Homo sapiens: one gene and its partners. The protein of the gene in region 2 purifies or fractionates together with the protein of the main gene of each other region. This does not show direct contact. Each region holds a gene or a part of one and is shown on either strand. Other genes may lie near its edges.

Region 1 (3,654 bases), on a different chromosome or scaffold from region 2:
TAATGTGCTGAGAAGTAGAACTTGATTGTATCTGCCACAACCAAATGAAACATTCTGTCCTGGGTCCACATGAGAAACTGGAAATGTTTTTAAGGAACTGAGAGGAGGGTCGTGTGAGCGTTGGCACAGTGTCTGAACTCCTTTCAGCTTTGTTGAGCCTAAGGCTTCCATAAGCAATTTCAGAAATCTAAGTCTTACTACCAGTAAGGCTGATAAAACAAGGATGTGGTTAATCTCATAGTGTCCTATCCTTCTTCCAGAGCATTTTATTACTCTTCTGTGGAAGAGGCAAAGTTGGCAGTTCTATCAGAGCTAAATTCAGATTCTAACATGGAAAACATTAACAAAGTTGGCAAGAGACACAAAAGCATCCTACCACTTTCTCAACATGCTTTGTGGGAAAAATATCTTCCTTTGCCATCATTCTCTTAAACAGATTAAAATGCAAGTTCTTTTGAGGTAAAGATCTCAACTTTCCTTAAACTGAATTCTAAGAAGAACCATCTACGATAGATACTTCATGTGCCTAGGACTGCGCCCAACATATAAATGAGAAACAAGCTGGTGTTTGAATTAGCTATAATTATACTCATTTTTTACACATCAAATGTGCACAGACCTAAGCCTTGAACTGCAGAACTTTGCCACAGATGGACCAGATCCTAACATAAACAGGTATACAAACCAAAACATGGAACAGTGGGGACCATGTAACACTAACATAGCCACACAAGAAAATCCAGAACAGCTATTTTAAATAATGAGGTAGAAAAATATCAAGTAAAATGGAAATATGTTCCCAGTACACTGCTAAGAAAAAAATATTACCATAAAAGCATCTAGAGTATAGTTCTATTTTTGTAAAAAATGTATGTATATGTACCTATGCATGCATATTCATTTTGCAAAAAGAAATAAAAACTCCCATCACTTAAAGGTTATAACAAAATCTCAAGTGTTTAACTTTGGGTGGTAGGATTACAAGTGATTTTTATTTTCTTCCTTTGCTTACCAGAATTTTGTAAATTTTCTAGAACTAATATGTTACTTGGTACAAGAAAAATTAATTTTACATTTTACAATAAATTTAAAGAAACCTAAGTTCAGAATACGGAAGCACCCTAGGCATGGTCTGTTTACCCTTCCTTGCCCTAGCTACACCACCATCTCTGCAACTCTCTGTAGAAATCTTCAGTGATCCAAATATATGATTCGATATTTGCTTCTATTCCACCATGAAGGTCTACTAACTGTAGGTGAGTAATACATTCAAAGATAGGAAAAATCCATCTATTAGAACACTTGTCTCTCTACCTGGGCATAACGTAAGAGCTTCTCAGTGGCCTCAGGGTCTTTATTCCAGATGAGATCTTCACAGAGCTGCAGAAGTTCCTTATGGATATCATCATACACAGGGAGGTTTCCAGCATTCACTATCCCCATGTCCATGCCAGACTAAGGGCAATACAAATAAAAATGAGAATTTACAGTGATACCTTAAGTCAGCGATCAGCAAACTTTTCTCTGTAAAGGGCCAGAGAGAAATATTTTAGGCCATAGCCTCTGTCACAGCTACTCAACTTTGTAGTTACAGCATAAAAGCAGCCACAGACAAGATACAAATGAATAGGTGTGGCTCTATCCCAATAAAATCTTATTTACAGAAACTGGCAGCAGGCCGGACTTAGCCTGCATGCCACACTTTGAAAACCCCTGCCCCAACTAAAAACTGGTTTCCGCAGGGCTAAGAGTTCTTCTACCATACCTTGATTGCATGGTAAAGGAAAACCCCATGCATTGCTTCTCGAATGGCTTCCATTCCTCGGAAGGAGAAGGACAAGTTGGAAAGACCTCCACTTATTCTGGCTCCAGGTAATGTTTCCTGGCAAAAATTTTAAAATATGAAAAGATTCCCCTTTTTTGCCAAAAACAGCAATCACATCTCTTAAGCTTTATATAGGAGTGGAAAGAAAAAAAAACAAAAAGCATCCGAAGTTCAAAGTAATTCAGAGCTTCTTGTTACTAGACATAGACCAAAGCTTGCCGTATTACAGTATTACAAAGGCGCTGCTTCGTAAGTAGTTTTTCCTACTAGACTCCAATCTCCCTAAGGAGAACACGCGCGTACACACACACACACACACACGCAGAAAGACAAAGAGGAATTCCTTATTCACTGAAAGTACAAATTACTAGAAGGCTTCCATAGCCTAAATGAACAGACTCCCTAGTTCACTATGAACTTGACCGACTATAAAAGGACAAAAGGAAATTGAAGTTCCAACCATACCGATGACAGTATCAAGCATCATCAGGCTTGTGGAATAACAGGAACTTTCACTATTATTGGCTCAAGAATCTAGGGAGACAGTTTGTCATTATCTACTACTATGAGCCAACCACTTCTGGGTCTATGCTACAGAGAAGTTCAGGCATGCATGTCTAAGATACATATATAAGAATACTCAGAGCTGCATTGTTCATAATGTCCAAAAGCTGGAAAAAAACTAGATGTCCATCAACAATAGAACAGTTAATTGTGGTATAGTTATACCATAGAATATTATACATTAATAAAAATGAACAAACAGCTACAGCCACACAGATAAATCTTTAGTATGGAGTAAGAAAAAAACATAAAAATATTACGATTCTATTTTTATTAGGCTCAAAAGCAGGCAAAACCAAACTATATCATTCAGATATTCAGTCAATTCTTACTATTTTGTGGTAGTTATGTTCTTTAAAGTCACTGCAAACACTGAATTAGGGAATACCAGAGCATTGCTCCTAGGAGAAATACAGGGCTAGGTTCCTATGAGCCTCTGATGACATTTTTGTCAACCAATCAATACATAACCTTGTTTTGTGCATGTATGTTAAGATGCTGTATCTAATATTTACTGTTGATTCATTAAGACTGAATTCACAGCCAATGGCACTATAATTCATGTCTGAACAAAGCTTATCTAACACACATATTTCCTCCCTAAGGAACATCACAGCCTTCTTGTGCTTAGAACACTAGACAGCACTAGTATGGGGCCATTTTAAAAAGTGACCTCACCAACAAAACGCATAAAAGTGTGAAAAACATGGCATTAGACTGCAAAAAGGACATCTGTGTACAGGATGAGAGCTGAAATAAGAAGGTAGGTCACTGCCATGTTTGCCCTCTTTGGGAATAATATGGGTTGGGCCACTCAAATTTTCCACCACTCTGCATATGGGTAAGTCTGAACAACTGCAGAAGTGACGTTGAGTATTGATTTTGGGGTCACAAATAAATTTCAGTAAGTACATGAATTTGCAAATATAAAATCCATAGATGATGCAAATCAAATCTACATATATAAGCAATAAATTTATGAAGAAAAGCAACAGAGTAGCGTCATAAAACTCAGGACAATAGCTACTTTATAAAATTGAGAATGAGGTGTAACTGGAAAAGGAGAGACAGACGGGGGCGCTAGCTATGCTCTATTTTGGGACCTAAGTGAAGGCTCTTATATGCTTCATAATTAATTATTTATCAGGTTCTGTGGTTTTTTTGTTTTGCATCATTTTGTTCAAGGCAGGGCCTCACTCTGTCGCCCAGGCTAGAGCGCACTGGCGTGATCCCAGCTCAATGCAACCTCCACCCTCCTGGGTTCA
Region 2 (3,654 bases):
TAATCCCAGCTACTCGGGAGTCTGAGGCAGGAGAATCACTTGAACCCAGGAGGCAGAAGTTGCAGTGAGCCAAGATGGTGCCATTGCACTCCAGCCCAGGCAACAGAGCAAGACTCTGTCCTAAAAAAAGAAAAAAAAATACAGAACCAAGGTATTAAAATAGTGTTTCTTAGCCAAATGCATTTTATCTCCTGGCTTTCTGGGCAGTTTGTGTACTCTCTGTGGTACCCACAGGTCTTATCATGGTGTTGAACTAATTCCGTGTATTTTTCTTTTTCTTACTCCACCCAATGTGCGTTACATTTTCAAGTAAGTTCATGACTCACGTGGCCTCCCAGTTTGCCTCCAGCTATGTGTTTTATTGGCGGGATTACTTTGAGGACCAGCCCCTTCTGTATCCCCCAGGCTTTGACGGAAGAGTCGTGGTGTATCCCAGCAACCAGACTTTAAAGGACTACCTCAGCTGGCGACAAGCAGATTGTGAGTGGCACCAAATAAACACATGTAGTTAAACCACCAATTCCATGTCTTACAGGTGTTGATCTGATACAGGATTGGCTCACATATACTTTGTTTCAACATATACGTTGTACAGAATGCAGTATTTAAATATTTTTTCAATTAGTTAAAAGTATTTGAAAAATTAAATTTTACGTAAAAACTCCTTATCTCTATTTTTTTTTTTTTTTAAGACAGAGTTTCGCTCTTGTTGCCCAGGCTGGAATGCAGTGGTGTCATCTTGGCTCACTGCAACCTCCACCTCCTGGGTTCATGGGATTCTTCTGCCTCAGCCTCCCGAGTAGCTGGGATTACAGGCATGTGCCACCACGCCCGGCTGATTCTGTATTTTTTAGTAGAAATGGGGTTTCTCCATGTTGGTCAGGCTGGTCTTGAACTCCTGACCTCAGGTGATCCACCCGCCTTGGCCTCCCAAAGTGCTGGGATTATAGGCGTGAGCCACCACGCCCAGCCGCCTTATCTCTATTTTTTAAAAAAATCAGATGTGGCAATACTGGATCTGCATTCTTACTTAGTACTAGACAAAGCCTGTTCAGTGGCAGCTACCTTTACACACACACACACACACAAATGCCAGTGTGCCATAGTCTCTGCCATTCCCTGTTGTTCCTCTGGGGTCACCCACTGCTTTACACATTTATGTTCATGCTGGCCTCAGTGGGTATTTGAATTGTGACCCTTGCCTTATGTGACTGTGATGATGTTTGTGAGGCTTTTACTTGCTTGTTCTAGTTTGAATTTTCCAGAAGAACTGGAAAAGAGATTGAAATAATATAAATCAAATAACTTCTAAAGTATTCCTAGGATTAACACACAAGTTAACAGATTTGTATAATGTGTAACTGAAATGACCAAATAAAACTGTTGTTAGGGATGAAGTTTTTTCCCTACTGCTCCTTCCCTCCATGTTCCGTGTGTAGGACTTCGGTCAAGTCACTGAATGTCTCTGAGATCTCTTTACTATGAAAGAGGAGAGGGTCAGGGCTCTAGTATTCCTTGAAGAATGAATATTCAATAAAGATTTTATGTATATAAACATTACTATTTTGTTCTCCTCACAGGTCACATCAATAATCTTTATAATACAGTTTTCTGGGCACTTATACAACAATCTGGACTAACACCAGTACAAGCCCAAGGGAGATTACAGGTATAAAGATCTTACTACATTAATACTTAACTGGGGACAGTTCGCTGTAGGCTCTCCCATAACTTTTTTTTTGTTAAATTTACATTTCTTTCTTTTAAGATCCCTGTACAGCTTTGTTTTGAAAGGATATAAAAATCATAATAGGAGCAGCTCTGCTGCCTGCTTGGTCTGTAATCCTGGATGAATTACTGCTTCTCCCTGAGCCTTTGTGTTCTTAGTGGAAAATGGAATTGACGGCACTGGCTCTGCATTCCCACGTGCTAACACTTGCCTGAAGCCGTGTATGACTGTGTATGACTGCCGTCTTCAGCACTGACTTTTTTTTTTTTTTTTGAGACACAGTTTCACTCTGTTGCCCAGGCTGCAGTACAGTGGTGTGATCTCAGCTGATTGCAACCTCCACCTCCTGTGCTCAAGCGATTCTCGTGCCTCAGCCTCCCAAGTAGCTGGGATTACAGGTGCATGCCACCACACCCAGCTAATTTTTGTATTTTTAGTAGAGACAGGGTTTCACCCCGTTGGCCAGGCTGGTCTTGAACTCCTGACCTGAAGTGATCTGCCTGCCTGGGCCTCCCAGAGTGCTGGGATTACAGGCGTGAGCCAGTGAGCCACCACACCTGGCCAGCACTGAATTTTTGTCAGTCCCACCACGCCTCTTCCCTCATTGCCATTTTCCCTGCTGGGCACCTGTAGTTTCTTGGGTTTATGACCTCTGTGTATAGGAAGAGTTCGTGCTGAGTTTGTTACTTTCATAAATGTCATAATAACTACTCACATCATGCTTCTGTGTAATTTTATCCTTTCTGCCTCAGTTCTTTATAGGTAAAATGTAGAAAATAGTAGTTTCTACCTCATAGGTTTATGGTGAGAATTAAATGGCATGATGCACGTAAAACACAGAATCGTATGAAGCACATTGTAAGTGCTTAATAAATACTGGTTTTTGTTATAACAGTGCTACTTGTAGGATGACTAACTGTGAAGTGAGGTAATGTGTTGTAACAGATCTTTTATTTGTATTTTATTTTATCTATTTATTTATTTTTTGAGATGGGTTCTTGCTATTTTCCCCAGGCTGGTCTTGAACTCCTGGGCTCCAGCAGTCCGCCCACCTCAGCCTCCCAAGTAGCTGGGATTACAGGTGCATGCCACTGTGCCCAGCTGTAACAGTTACTAATACAATGCCTGGTACATTATGTTTGCTCAATAAATGGTTGTCATTTTTAATAATAGTAATGATAGAGATTTTTATATAGCAATAATAGGAAAACTGGGGCCTGGTGTGGTGGTTCACGCATGTAATCCCAGCACTCTGAGGAGGCCAAGGTAGGTGGATCACCTGACGTCAGGAGTTCAAGACCAGCCTGGCCAACATGGTGAGACCGCTTCTCTACAAAAATTAGCTGGGTGTGCTGGCACACACCTGTAATCCCAGCGACTCAGGAGGCTGAGGCATGAGAATCGCTTGAACCTGGGAGGTGGCAGTTGCAGTGAGCTGAGATTGCACCACTGCACTCCAACCTGGGCAACAGAGTGAGACTTTGTCTAAAAAAAAAAAAGGCATACTGGTAGGTATATCCAGGTTTGGAAGAGTCAAGTTCAGATTTCAATTCTTCGTAGAAGAATAAGGACAACCTTTTAACCTTGGGGAATTTATATAACCTTTCTAAGTTTTACTGGACCAAATACATAATATGTATTCAGTTAGTATTAATTCTCCCCACTCCCTTTCAGTCTTGACTTGTGAAGCCAGTGTTTGGTATAGGAGAGAATTTTATCTAAGTAAGATCATAATTGCCCTTAAGATGAAAATTTACTAATAACTATAAGATGTTTGATAAAATCCTTCCACTTCTTGATTGTGGAAATTTAGGTTGTGGGTCGAATGGATAGTAGCACTAGGGGAGAAAGAAGACATGCAGAGCTTTTAATATCTATTTTTATTTTCTCAGGGAACTCTTGCAGCAGACAAGAATGAGATTTTG
Region 3 (3,654 bases), on a different chromosome or scaffold from region 2:
TTTTTGTAGGGATGAGGTTTCATCATGTTGGCCAGACTGGTCTTAAACTCCTGGCCTCAAGTGGTCTGCCTGCCTCAGCCTCCCATAGTGCTGGGATTACAGGTGTGAGCCACCACACCCCGCCTCTACTAAGAAGTATTTCTTTTTTTTTTTTTTTGAGACTGAGTCTCGCTCTGTCGCCCAGGTTGGAGTGCAGTGGTGCGACCTCTGCTCACTGCAACCTCCGCCTCCTGGGTTCAAGAAATTCTCGTGCCTCAGCCTCCTGAGTAGCTGGGATTACAGGAAACTGCCACCATACTCGGCTAATTTTTGTATTTTTAGTAGACATGGGGTTTTGGCATGTTGGTCAGGCTGGTCTTCAAATTCCTGACCTCAAGTGATCTGCCCCCCTTGGCCTGCCAAAGTGCTGGGATTACAGGCGTGAGCCACTGCGCCCAGCCTCTACTAAAAGGTATTTGTTTTTTCTTTTTTTTTGAGACAAGATCTCGCTGTCACCCAGGCTGGAGTGCAGTGGTGTGATGATGGCTTACTGCAGCCTCTGCCTCCCAGGCTCAAGAGATCCTCCTACCTCAGCCTCCTGAGTAGCTGGGACTACAGGTATGTGCCACCATGCCTGGCTAACTTTTGTATTTTTTTGTAGAGATGGGGGTCTTGTCATATTGCCCAGGCTAGTTTCAAATTCTTGGGCTCAAGTGATCTGCCCACCTTGGTCTCCCAAAGTGCTGGGATTATAGGCATGAGCTACCATGCCTGGCCAATTTTACTAAGAAATATTTCAAACACACACACAAGCATAGAGAGTATTATAATTTGCCATAATATACATTTGTGAGAATGCAGATAAGATGCCTTCAGTTTCTTACCACCAAGTCAACCCAAAGCTTCAGGAAATGTTCTGTTTATCTAACTGGAGAGCTAGGTGTGAAGAGCTAGAACACATGGCTTACTGTGCTATGTGTTACACATCTAAGACCCAGTATTAGGGCTCTATAGGACAACCAACACATGTGGGGTCAAACCAAACCTGGAGCTGAGACTGGCATTTACTACAAGATCGCATTGTTGCTGACTGGGAGTCCCTCTTCCCTAACCATCTCTGGGAACTGCAAGGGACCCACCTTTTCTCAGAGGAAAGCTCAGCCTTGGACTGGAGGCTGACATTCATCTGCATCCTCCCTAATTCCCCCATTCTGTGCCCTCCTGGCAGTGCCTGGGCTAGGCTGCCCACCTCCGAAGCTGAAGATTCACTCTGGGAGTGAATCCACTCCTACCCCTGCTGGGGTCTGAAGCCTGCAGCCTCCCTCCCTTCACACTCACCCGGTGGTTGTCTAGATGATCATGGTCTCTGGATGCCATGTTATCGAGGTCACTGAACACTGGCCAATCTGGGCAGGGAGAAACAGACATCATGTCCTGGTTCCACTACTGGAACATGCATAAGACCAACCCACGGCCTAGGGCGGTCCATACCTGCCACCAAGCCTTTTTTTTTTTTTAAGCTTTAAAGAAAGGCACAAAAAAGGAGAAGAATGTTATCAGCACCTGGAGGCTAAAGTTCTTCCTTGAGAACTTATTCTAAGTCTGCTGTTTGCCAGCTACATGATTCTGGCCAAGTGGTGTCACCTATGTGTGTCCTCAGGGTTGTCACAATGCAATTATCCTTGTAATGTGTTTATTAGCATATGTGCCTGGCCACCACTTGGTCCTCAATAAAATGCAGTTGTGAAGGAAGAACAGACGTTTATACATTTGGGGCTCAAGAAGTGGGCCTCAGATAGCTTCAAAACCATCTTCAGCTGGGCACGGTGTCTTATGCCTGTAATCCCAGAACTATGGGAGGCCGAGGCAGGTGGATCACCTGAGGTCAGGAGTTCAAGACCAATCTGGCCAACATAGTGAAACCCCATCTCTATTAAAAATACAAAAATTAGCTGGGTATGGTGGCATGCACCTGTAATCCCAGCTACTTGGGAGGCTGAGGCAGGAGAATCGCTTGAACCCAGGAGGTAGAGATTGCAATGAGCCAAGATCACGCCACCGCATTCCAGCCGGGGTGACAGAGAGAGAGATTCCGTCTCAAAACAAAACAAACAAAAAAAAAACACCAACCATCTCCTGGTGGTTCCCTATCTCTGTCTCCTGCCCTCTACAGCCAAATCTATCTGTCTGTTTTTATAGTTTGTAAGAACAGTGTTTACATTTTTAAATGGATGACAAAAATTAAATTTCACCATCCATAGAGTTTTATTGGAACACAGCCACATCCACTCACTTAATATTTTCTATGGTAGCTTTCATGCTCCAAATGCAGAGACTGAATGACCTGCAAAGCTTAAAATATTTACTCTCTGACCTTTTAAAAAAGTCTGTTGACTCCTGTTCCAGACTATTCCAAAGACCTTCCAGTGGAAACATCTAAAGGGCTTCTTTAATGTTTGACACTAAAATCTTTCTCTCTTTCAAAGGTATCAAAATGAGAAAAATTAAAAAACTAAACAATAAAATCTTGCTCTCCTGCTCTGAGCCTGCTCCCGCTCACACTTTCCCTGAATACATGACCTCCAGCTCTTTAGGCCAATACCCTGGGGTCAGTCTTGCCTCTATCCTTTCCTACAGACTCTCATCTGAATCATCAGCAAACTCCACTCTTTCAGTGTCAGAAATAATGATTCTGTTTTTCTCCTTTGACCCATTAATATCACATTCATAGCTTTTCTAACATTGAACAACCCTCAGATTCCTGTGAAATCCCTATTTAACTGTGACAGGTGAACCTTTTAACATAGTACTATTTTTATTTGTTAATATCTATTTAGATTTTTTTTTTGTTCTCTATACACAAATACAAATTTTAAATAAGGTTGGGATATAATTTTCTTTTTTAGTTTGTCAAATTTATTATATAGGTTTTGCTGGTTTCATAAAACACACTGATAAAAGTTACTTTGTTTCCTACAATAGGGGTTGTTTTTATAGCATTTGGATGATCTGTTTTGAAAGTTCACTCAATGAAACTCACCTATAAAACCACTGGGGCCATGAACCTTTTCGATTAGCATGTCTGATTTTTCTAACATAAATGAAAGCTGGTTTAGCTCTGCTCCACCTGTCCCCTCCAATCACAGTGACTAGGGACCGAACCGTCACTCACGGAGGTGGTCTAGCTTCTGGCTGTGTGGTGTGGCCGAAGATGGGGAAGAAGGGAGAGAGTCGAAGGTCACGTCGCTCATGTTCTCGTCTCCAGAGTTCTCTGAAAGGGGACGGAGCAGGGGTGGCCGGCTCCCAGAGAGGGTCCTTACTTGGGGGCTCCCACATTTTTCCTCTGTTCCTCTCAAGATGGTCTTGGCTGATTGCTAGGGACATTAATAGGGATACTCATGTCACGCACACACCCTCTGGGAATTAAAGGGCTCTTCCTGTTGTTCCCTCTAACCCTGAAACCCCTTCATCCACAGCTCCTAAACATGCCTGTTTAGGAGCTGATATATTGTCTTAAAAAATAAAAAATCAGTCAGGGATTAAACCTAAGGCCTCCAAGAAAGGGCATCTGGAACAGAGGCTCAGAGGACCTGCCAGTATCCCCTAAAGCACTGACCACATTCCACAGCCCAGAGCTGGAGAAAGCATTCCACTCTATGTCCAGCATCCCAAGCT

The links.
Region 1: the proteins of THG1L (region 2) and MTR fractionate together in Homo sapiens (co-fractionation; one large-scale study listed by BioGRID). This does not show direct contact.
Region 3: the proteins of THG1L (region 2) and EEF2K fractionate together in Homo sapiens (co-fractionation; one large-scale study listed by BioGRID). This does not show direct contact.

The regions. Positions count from the first base shown.
Region 1 is NC_000001.11:236,850,749-236,854,402, reverse strand, and holds part of MTR (methionine synthase), read right to left. Parts: intron 1,883-3,654; coding exon 1,766-1,882; intron 1,456-1,765; coding exon 1,315-1,455; intron 1-1,314. UniProt on the Homo sapiens protein: Catalyzes the transfer of a methyl group from methylcob(III)alamin (MeCbl) to homocysteine, yielding enzyme-bound cob(I)alamin and methionine in the cytosol. MeCbl is an active form of cobalamin (vitamin B12) used as a cofactor for methionine biosynthesis.
Region 2 is NC_000005.10:157,734,266-157,737,919, forward strand, and holds part of THG1L (probable tRNA(His) guanylyltransferase), read left to right. Parts: intron 1-310; coding exon 311-480; intron 481-1,580; coding exon 1,581-1,669; intron 1,670-3,621; coding exon 3,622-3,654. UniProt on the Homo sapiens protein: Adds a GMP to the 5'-end of tRNA(His) after transcription and RNase P cleavage. This step is essential for proper recognition of the tRNA and for the fidelity of protein synthesis.
Region 3 is NC_000016.10:22,258,193-22,261,846, reverse strand, and holds part of EEF2K (eukaryotic elongation factor 2 kinase), read right to left. Parts: intron 3,354-3,654; coding exon 3,152-3,353; intron 1,386-3,151; coding exon 1,318-1,385; intron 1-1,317. UniProt on the Homo sapiens protein: Threonine kinase that regulates protein synthesis by controlling the rate of peptide chain elongation.